Linked DNA regions of Homo sapiens: region 2 is linked to region 1. A link means that fine-mapping ties the variant in region 1 to the expression of a gene that starts in the linked region. Tissue or cell type: transverse colon. Region 1 holds a variant in brackets; the other region holds the start of a gene. All regions are shown on one strand. Distances are between the middles of the regions. Region 1 has its middle 25 kb from the start of NAT8. Region 2 holds the start of NAT8 (N-acetyltransferase 8 (putative)).

The links. PIP is the estimated chance that this variant, and not a neighbour inherited with it, causes the effect.
Region 2: it holds the start of NAT8, and the variant in region 1 is the best candidate, but not a certain one, in a credible set for the expression of NAT8 in transverse colon (GTEx, PIP 0.69).

Annotation. Positions count from the first base shown.
Region 1 is chr2:73,664,506-73,669,713 of GRCh38, reverse strand. It overlaps the pseudogene ALMS1P1. Among named protein-coding and RNA genes, the nearest start is that of NAT8, 25 kb to the right of the region's middle. The variant C/T (reference allele first, on the strand shown) is at 3,024.
Region 2 is chr2:73,640,057-73,645,264 of GRCh38, reverse strand. NAT8 (N-acetyltransferase 8 (putative)) reads left to right here and starts at 2,843. Exons shown (of 2, transcript NM_003960.4): 1 at 2,843-2,947; 2 at 3,563-4,542. The coding sequence starts at 3,637. The coding sequence ends at 4,320. It also overlaps the pseudogene ALMS1P1.

The sequences.
Region 1 (5,208 bases):
GGAAAACTAACAAACAGAAAGGACCTCCGCACCAAAACCCCATCTGTACATCACCATCGTCAAAGACCAAAGGTAGATAAAACCACAAACATGGGGAGAAACCAGAGCAGAACAGCTGAAAATTCTAAAAATCAGAGCACCTCTTCCCCTCCAAAGCAACAAAGCTGCTTTCCAGCAATGGAACAAAGCTGGATGGAGAATGACTTTGACGAGTTGACAGAAGTAAGCATCAGATGATTGGTAATAACAAACTTCTCTGAGCAAAAGGAGGATGTTCGAACCCATTGCAAAGAAGCTAAAAACCTTGAAAAAAGATTAGATGAATGGCTAACTAGAATAAACAGCATAGAGAAGACCTTAAATGACCTGATGGAGCTAAAAACCATGGCACGTGAACTATGTGAGAGATGCCCAAGCTTCAGTAGCTGATTCAATCAAGTGGAAGAAAGAGAATCAGTGATTGAAGATCAAATGAATGAAATGAAGTGAGAAGTTTAGAGAAAAAAGAGTAAAAAGAAATGAACAAAGCCTCCAAGAAATATGGGACTATGTGAAAAGACCAAATCTATGTCTGATTGGTGTACCTGAAAGTGATGAGGAGAATGGAACCAAGTTGGAAAACACTCTGCAGGATATTACCCAGGAGAACTTCCCCAGCCTAGCAAGGCAGGCCAACATTCAAATTCAGGAAATACAGAGAATGCCACAAAGATACTCCTCGAGAAAAGCAACTCCAAGACACATAATTGTCAGATTCACCAAAGCTGAAATGAAGGAAAAAATCTTAAGGGCAGCCAGACAGAAAGGTCAGGTTACCCACAAAGGGAAGCCCATCAGACTAACAACTGATCTCTCAGCAGAAACTCTACAAGCCAGAAAGGAGTGGGGGCCAATATTCAACATTCTTAAAGAAAAGAATTTTCAACCTAGAATTTCATATCCAGCCAAACTAAGCTTCATAAGTGAAGGAGAAATAAAATCCTTTACAGACAAACAAATGCTGAGAGATTTTCTCACCACCAGGCCTGTCTCACAAGAGCTCCTGAAGGAAGCACTAAATATGGAAAGGAACAACCGGTACCAGCCACTGCAAACGTATGCCAAATTGTAAAGAACATCAATGCTAGGAAGAAACTCCATCAACTAGCGAGCAAAATAACCAGCTAATATCATAATGACAGGATCAAATTCACACATAACAATATTAGCCTTAAATGTAAATGGCCTAAATGCTCCAATTGAAAGACACAGACTGGCAAATTGGATAAAGAGTCAAGACCCATCAGTATGCTGTATTCAGGAGACCCATCTCATGTGCACAGACACATATAGGCTCAAAATAAAGGCATGGAGGAAGAGCTACCAAGCAAATGGAAAACAAAAAAAGGCAGGGGTTGCAATCCTAGTCTCTGATAAAACAAACTTTAAACCAACAAAGATCAAAAGAGACAAAGAAGGCCATTACATGATGGTAAAAGAATCAATTAAACAAGAAGAGCTAACTATCCTAAATACATATGCACCCAATACAGGAGCACCCAGATTCATAAAGCAAGTCCTTAGAGACCTACAAAGAGACTTAGACTTCCACACAATAATAATTGGAGAATTTAACACCCCACTGTCAACATTAGACAGATCAACGAGACAGAAAGTTAACAAGGATATCCAGGAATTGAACTCAGCTCTGCACCAAGCAGACCTAATAGACATCTATAGAACTCTCCACCCCAAATCAACAGAATATACAGTCTTCTCAGCACCACATCGCACTTATTCCAAAATTGACCACATAGGTGGAAGTAAAGCACTCCTTAGCAAATGTAAAAGAACAGAAATGATAACAAACTGTCTCTCAGACCACAGTGCAACCCAATTAGAACTCAGGATTAAGAAGCTCACTCAAAACCGCTCAACTACATGGAAACTGAACAACCTGCTTCTGAAAGACTACTGGGTACATAACGAAATGAAGGCAGAAATAAAGATGTTCTTTGAAACCAATGAGAACAAAGACACAACATACCAGAATCTCTGGGACACATTTAAAGTAGTGTGTAGAGGGAAATTTATAGCACTAAATGCCCACAAGAGAAAGCAGGAAAGATCTAAAATTGACATCCTAATGTCACAGTTAAAAAAACTAGAGAAGCAACAGCAAATACATTCAAAAGCTAGCAGAAGGCAAGAAATAACTAAGATCAGAGCAGAACTGAAGGAGATAGAGACACAAAAAACCCTTCCAAAAATCAATGAATCCAGGAGCTGGTTTTTTGAAAAGATCAGCAAAATTGATAGACCGCTAGCAAGACTAATAAAGAAGAAAAGAGAGAAGAATCAAATAGATGCAATAAAAAATGATAAAGGGCATATCACCACCGATCCCACAGAAATACAAACTACCATCGGAGAATACTATAAACACCTCTATGTAAATAAACTAGAAAATCTAGAAGAGATGGATAAATTCCTGGACACATACACCCTCCCAAGACTAAACCAGGAAGAAGTTGAATCCTTGAATAGACCAATAACAGGCTCTGAAAATGAGGCAATAATTAATAGCCTATCAACCAAAAAAAGTCCAGGACCAGACAGATTCACAGTTGAATTCTATCAGAGGTACAAAGAGGAGCTGGTACCATTCCTTCTGAAACTATTCCAATCAACAGAAAAAGAGGGAATCCTCCCTAACTCATTTTACAAGGCCAGCATCATCCTGATACCTAGGCCTGGCAGAGACACAACAAAAAAAGAGAATTTTAGACCAATATCCCTGATGAACATTGATGCAAAAATCCTCAATAAAATACTGGAAAACTGAATCCAGCAGCACATCAAAAAGCTTATCCACCATGATCACATTGGCTTCATCCCTGGGATGCAAGGCTGGTTCAACATATGCAAATCAATAAATGTAATCCATCATATACACAGAACCAAAGACAAAAACCACATGATTATCTCAATATATGCAGAAAAGGCCTTCAACAAAATTCAACAGCCCTTCATGTTAAAAACTC[C/T]CAATAAACTAGGTATTGATGGGACATATCTCAAAATAATAAGAGCTGTTTATGGCAAACACACAGCCAATATCATACTGAATGGGCAAAAACTGGAAGCATTCCCTTTGAAAACTGGCACAAGACAGAGATGCCCTCTCACCACTCCTATTCAACACAGTGTTGGAAGTTCTGGCCAGGGCAATCAGGCAGGAGAAAGAAATAAAGGGTATTCAATTAGGAAAAGAGGAAGTCAAATTGTCCCTGTTTGCAGATGACATGATTGTAAATTTAGAAAACTCCATTGCCTCAGCCCCAAATCTCCTTAAGCTGATAAGCAACTTCAGCAAAGTCTCAGGATACAAAATCAATGTGCAAAAATCACAAGCGTTCCTATACACCAATAACAGACAAACAGAGAGCCAAATCATGAGCGAACTCCCATTCACAATTGCTTCAAAGAGAATAAAATACCTAGGAATCCAACTTACAAGGGATGTGAAGGACCTCTTCAAGGGGAACTACAAACCACTGCTCAATGAAATAGAAGAGGACACAAACAAATGGAAGAACATTCCATGCTCATGGATAGGAAGAATCAATATTGTGAAAATGGCCATACTGCCCAAGGTAATTTATAGATTCAATACCATCCCCATCAAGCTACCAACGACTTTCTTCGTAGAATTGGAAAAACCTACTTTAAAGTTCATATGGAATCAAAAAAGAGCCCGCATTGCCAAGACAATCCTAAGCCAAAAGAACAAAGCTGGAGGCATCACGCTACCTGACTTCAAACTATACTACAAGGCTACAGTAACCAAAATAGCATGGTACTGGTAACCAAAACAGAGATATAGACCAATGGAACAGAACAGAGCCCTCAGAAATAATGCCACACATCTACAACCATCTGACCTTTGACAAACCTGATAAAAACAAGAAATGGGGAAAGGATTCCCTATTTAATAAATGGTACTGGGAAAACTGGCTAGACATATATAGAAAGCTGAAACTGGATCCCTTCCTTACAGCTTATACAAAAATTAATTCAAGATGGATTAAAGACTTAAATGTCAGACTTACCACCATAAAAACTCTAGAAGAAAACCTAGGCAATACCATTCAGGACATGGGCATGGGCAAGGACTTCATGACTAAAACACCAAAAGCAATAACAACAAAAGACAAAATAGACAAATGGGATCTAATTAAACCAAAGAGCTTCTGCAGAGCAAAAGAAACCACCATCAGAGTGAACAGGCAACCTACAGAATGGGAGAAAATTTTTACAATCTACCCATCTGACAAAGGGCTAATATCCAGAATCTACAACGAACGTAAACAAATTTACAAGAAATAAATCAAACAACCCCATCAAAACTAGGCAATGGATATGAACAGACACTTCCCAAAAGAAGACATTTATGCAGCCAACAGACACATGAAAAAATGCTCATCATCACTGCCCATCAGAGAAATGCAAATCAAAACCACAATGAGATACCATCTCGCAACAGTTAGAATGGTGATCATTAAAAAGTCAGGAAACAACAGGTGCTGGAGAGGATATGGAGAAATAGGAACACTTTTACACTGTTGTTGGGACTGTAAATTAGTTCAACCATTGTGGAAGACAGTGTGGTGATTCCTCAAGGATCTAGAACTAGAAATACCATTTGACCCAGCCATCCCATTACTGGGTATATACCCAAAGGATTATAAATCATGCTACTATCAAGACACATGCACACGTATATTTATTGTGGCACTACTCACAATAGCAAAGACCTGGAACCAACCCAAATGTCCATCAATGACAGACTGGATTAAGAAAATGTGGCACATATAGACCATGGAATACTATGCAGTGATAAAAAAGGATGAGTTCACGTCCTTTGTAGAGACATGGATGAAGCTGGAAACCATCATTCTGAGCAAACTATCGCAAGGATAGAAAAACAAACACCTATGTCACTCATAGGTGGGAATTGAACAATGAGAACACTTGGACACAGGATGGGGAACATCACACAGTGGGGCCTGTTGTGGGGTGGGGGGAGGGGGGAAGGATAGCATTCGGAGATATACCTAATGTAAATGACCAGTTAATGGATGCAGCACACCAACATGGCACATGTATACATATGTAACAAACCTGCACGTTGTACACATGTACCCTAGAACTTAAAGTATAATAATAATA
Region 2 (5,208 bases), 24 kb after region 1:
AATGTGCAAAAATCACAAGTACACCAATAAAAGACAGAGAGCCAAATCATGAGTGAACTCCCATTCACAATTGCTTCAAAGAGAATAAAATACCTAGGAATCCAACTCACAAGGGATGTGAAGGACGTCTTCAAGGAGAACTAAGTCCTAACTGTCAAGTTCACCTTCCTAACAAAGTTATTCCGGATGTGATGTCTCCACCATCGTCCTGGTCCCAGAGCCCCATCAGGTGTGTCCTCCTGGGCAGCAGCCTCGCTTCTGACATCTGGTGCCTTCATGCCAAGTCCAGGCACAGCACATAACAAGCCTTCGGCCACTGTTTGTTGAATGAATAAATGAATCTTTCAGGTCCGACAAGGAAAGCCCAGGCTTTTATCAGGAAAGCTACAAAAATGCAGAAGTCACAGTAAATCCTGGGAGCAAGAGACGCCTGAATGTCAAGTGAGGTCGCTGTGTTTTGAGGAAGCCACAGCCACGGGTGAGCATGGAGGGAGAGACAGCACACAGGGACGGAGCACAAACCTCTCCCCCTCCACGTGACCGGCAGGTTTCTGACTGAATATTGGTTAGACTCACACTAGAAGTACTCAGTGGTGCTTTGGAGCCACCGCTCACCTCTTTTGATTCCTAGGCCAACTCCTGCTTGACACTGAAATGTTGCGAGAACACTCTAAAGATGAGCCATGGACTTCCTGCCCAGACTTGATGCTCCTTAGACTTTTCCTCGGAGGTGGTGTTGGGTACCAAAGATCTGGAATCTCAGCAGCCTCCACTGGCTGGCCCTGGGTTCCTGCTGCTGACTCCCAGCTTCTGGTTTCTGCTGAAGAAGGCTGCAGGGCAGCACCTTTAGGGGAAGCCTTGACTTTTCCAGATCTGGGCTCTCTCCAGTGTTTTCCTGAATGCCCCTACCAGAAGCCTGGCTGTCGTCTCTGAGCCCTTCCTCATCCTCCTCCCTGTGTGAATCATTCCAACTCCTGCCATTTCTGCCCCAAATGCACCTCCATACGGCTCATGTCTCACCTTCTTGACTTCCTCCCTCTGGTGAAGCCACTGCTGTCTCATGGGCCTCTGCTAACCCAGGCGGCTTCTTTGTGAACCCAGAGCTAGGCACAGCCTCAAGCCATGCAGCCCACTGGATGCAGAGTTTAGCAGGCAAGCAACGCCTTTGAGCAAATAAGAAAAGGTTGCCTTTTCCTTTGGCCAGTCTCAGTTTCGTGCCATGGCTCATGGCTTGGCAACCAGAGGGAGGCCCAGTTTTAGCTCCCACCAGAGCCTCTGGGCCAGCTGCTCTTGTACAGTGAGCACCTGCATCCCTGTACTGGAGGCCCCGCTCTTGCCTGGATGTGGCATGAGCCTTGAGGGGTAGCTGCTTCCATTCCTACCTCCTCAGATCCATTGTCCACCTGCAGCCAGAGTGATGCTTGCGTGCGCACACACACACACACACACACCTCCTCCCCTCCGTGCATATCAATGTCCTCCCCTTGCTCTTGGAATAGAGTCCAAACTACCTAACCTAGATGACGGGCCCAGCGTGGCTGATCATCAATAGGTTAGCTAATCTTTGGAAGGGAAGTTTCCCTTCAATAGCATGTAAGTTGGTGTGGAAAAGGGCTTTTTCTGTTAGGTTTTGCTTTTGCCTATCTTGTATATGTTGCATCCTTGTAATTGGGCCCCTTGAGATTTCAGCACCACACCATGTTTTAGTGACTGAAATAATGAACATTCTGATCAGACCGTTGCTGGCTTGCACATGTTAACCACTTGCTTTTGGTCCAATATTCCTTGTTCCCACAACATAATGATAAACTGCTCATGTACTGTTTCTTTGTTCAGCAGGAAGACATTCCTTCAGGGTCAGGAAAAGTTTGCAGAATGAATGAATGCCTTGAAGGACACTGTGACCAGCTGCTGACACTGAGAAGCCTGGTTGCACAAGGTGTTATCTCAGACTGAGGAAACACAGACTTTTCCTCTCAATCCCCCTGAACTCCCCCTTCCTCACTCTCTAGCTGCATAAAAACATTCTGCTGCTGCTTCTTTGTTGAACTGAAGTTGAGAGATCTTGCTCTCCTGCCTTCTTGCTTTGGCCAAATCGAATACAACTTTCTCTATCTCCAAGCACCCATGTGTCAGTGTTTGGGATCAGCTCCACGTCGGGTACAAGAGCATGAATTTGGGCCTCCCCAACATCTGCAGTGCAAAATATTTAACAACGGGTGTGGCACAGCCTCTGACCAACAGCCAGAACACACACAAGCCACACACAGCCATGCCTGTCAAGCCGAATGTCAACCTTGCTCATGGCTGAAATGACCCCAGGACACAGGAAGTGCATGACACACAACTGTTGACTGAATCAATGAATGGGTGGAGATGGGGGTTGGTGAGGTGAGTGCAAGGAACTGCCAACAACAGATGCTTCGTGGACCAGGGAAACCTCAGCGAGGAGAAGCCTAGCTGGGAAGGGCCTTGTTGCCAAGCATGGGGACTCGGCTTCTGGCCAATGGTGACTGATTGCAGGGTGAATGGTACAGTTCTCAGGCTCGTCGTATATGTGTACAAGGACCAGGGTGGATCGTATATGTGGACAGGGACCGAGAGTACTAAGTGTGCCAGGTGGCAGAGAGATGCACGGGGCCTGAACAGGCAAGAGAGGTGGCAGGCCTTCCAGAAGGGCAAGGAACCCAGGCGGTTCCAGACCCTGAGTCTCCCCCTCCAGGTCGTTCCCTTTGACCACAAAGAGGAATGCACACTGGGCTCCCTGCTGTGTTACAGCCCAGCTCTTTGACCCTAGGGTTGATGATTACCAAACATTCAGGAGCCAAGCAATAAGGCAGGCAGTCTACTTTCCAGGGGTGAGCAAGCCCCAGACGGTATCTCCTGGATGCCAGTGAGCGGCTGAGAGCTGAAGCTCCCTGGACACTCAAGGCTCTTGTGGTGACAGGTGAGGGGACTGGGTGGAAGGACAGTGCTCTGAGCATGCACCTTCCTTGGGATCTGGAGGCTGGGCTGTTTTTTATGCTTGGCTCTTATGCCACTTCAGCAACCTAAAAACTTACAATAAAGCTGGAGGGAGCCTTTCCTGAAACTTGTGTTGGACAGAGAATTTTTGCGATGTATGGTCCCTGGAGAAGGACAAAAGGGTTGCACGTGTGGCCTGCCTGAGGTAGGTGCCCCCTCAATGCACGGAGAAGCTGAGAGAGCCAGAAAAAGGAAACAGAAAAAGGAAGAGCGGTGGGTAGTTCATCTACCAGGGCTTTATAGAAGGCATCTTATTCAATCTTCAAAACAACTCTAGAAGGCAGGTTTTCTTCTCCCCTGTTCTATAGTTGAAGAAATGGAGGCTCAGAGAGGTTAAGTGACATGCCTAAGGTCACACAGCTAGAAAGGGATGGAACCAGATTCCAATGCAGGTCTTTCTGACCCTACCTTCTCCCAGTGGCAGAGGCCTGCTTCCTCATGGGCAAACGCGGAAAGACACACCCTTGAGCAGGTCTCCCTGTTCCTGCAAGGCTGGGAGCCATGCAGGCACTCACATGATTTTCTCTCTCTTCCCCAGTCTGACGTAAAGGCGTGCAGGGAGGCCTAGCTCTGTCTCCTGGACTTAGAGATTTCAGACACAGAAGTCTGTCCATGGCTCCTTGTCACATCCGCAAATACCAGGAGAGCGACCGCCAGTGGGTTGTGGGCTTGCTCTCCCGGGGGATGGCCGAGCATGCCCCAGCCACCTTCCGGCAATTGCTGAAGCTGCCTCGAACCCTCATACTCTTACTTGGGGGGCCCCTCGCCCTACTCCTGGTCTCTGGATCCTGGCTTCTAGCCCTCGTGTTCAGCATCAGCCTCTTCCCTGCCCTGTGGTTCCTTGCCAAAAAACCCTGGACGGAGTATGTGGACATGACATTGTGCACAGACATGTCTGACATTACCAAATCCTACCTGAGTGAGCGTGGCTCCTGCTTCTGGGTGGCTGAGTCTGAAGAGAAGGTGGTGGGCATGGTAGGAGCTCTGCCTGTTGATGATCCCACCTTGAGGGAGAAGCGGTTGCAGCTGTTTCATCTCTTTGTGGACAGTGAGCACCGTCGTCAGGGGATAGCAAAAGCCCTGGTCAGGACTGTCCTCCAGTTTGCCCGGGACCAGGGCTACAGTGAAGTTATCCTGGACACCGGCACCATCCAGCTCTCTGCTATGGCCCTCTACCAGAGCATGGGCTTCAAGAAGACGGGCCAGTCCTTCTTCTGTGTGTGGGCCAGGCTAGTGGCTCTTCATACAGTTCATTTCATCTACCACCTCCCTTCTTCTAAGGTAGGGAGTCTGTGATCTCTTTCTGTGTGTATTGGTCAGAATAGAATCCATTCAGCTGTAGCAGCAAGCAATCCCCAACCTTTCACTGCAATGACCTTTCAATGCAATAAAAGCTTATTGTCCATTCACATCTGAGTCCCATGTGATTGCTTGTGGGGTAGCTTCTGGGTTTCTGCTTCATTCAGTCTTTTTGATTCCCATCTGTTTCATTTTTCTAGTGCCAGCATAATGTTGCATAAGAACAACCACCAAATGAAACAAATATTTATTTAGTTCATGAGTCTGAAGTCAGCAATTTTGCCTGAGCTTGGCTGGGCAGTTCCTCTGGTGTCAGACTGCATTGTACAAATGCAGTGGGATTGGCTGAAAGACTAGGTCAATGGTGCTGTTTCGTTTTCCCACAGGCTACCTCAGGCATGGTTTCAAGGAAATTGCAGAGGAGCAAAAACAAAAGCAGAAACAAACAAATGTGTTTTCAAACCCCTGCATGTGTTGCATCTTCCCCAAACTCAAGGAGAGGAACCTGTCTCTGCAGTGAGAAGGGCTGCAAAGTCACATAGCAAAAGGGTGGAATGCAGCCTCGGGAGAAGAATTGGGGCCAGAGACACAACCAATCCACTCTAACTCCAGGGTCTCTGCAGAGGGAAGAAGGTGGCCTCAGAGGGGAGTGTGGGATTTACCATGGGCTAGACCTGGAAGTAGTATAACTCTTCCAGGGGATCATAACAGAATACCTGAGACTGGGTAATTTATAAGGAAAAGAGGTGTATTTGGTTCATGGTTTTGCAGGCTGTACAAAAAGCACAGTGCAGGCATCTGCTTCTGGTGAGGGCCTCAGGAATCTTTTACTCATGTTGGAAGCTGAAGGGGGAGCAGATGTGTCACATGGCGAGACAGCACACA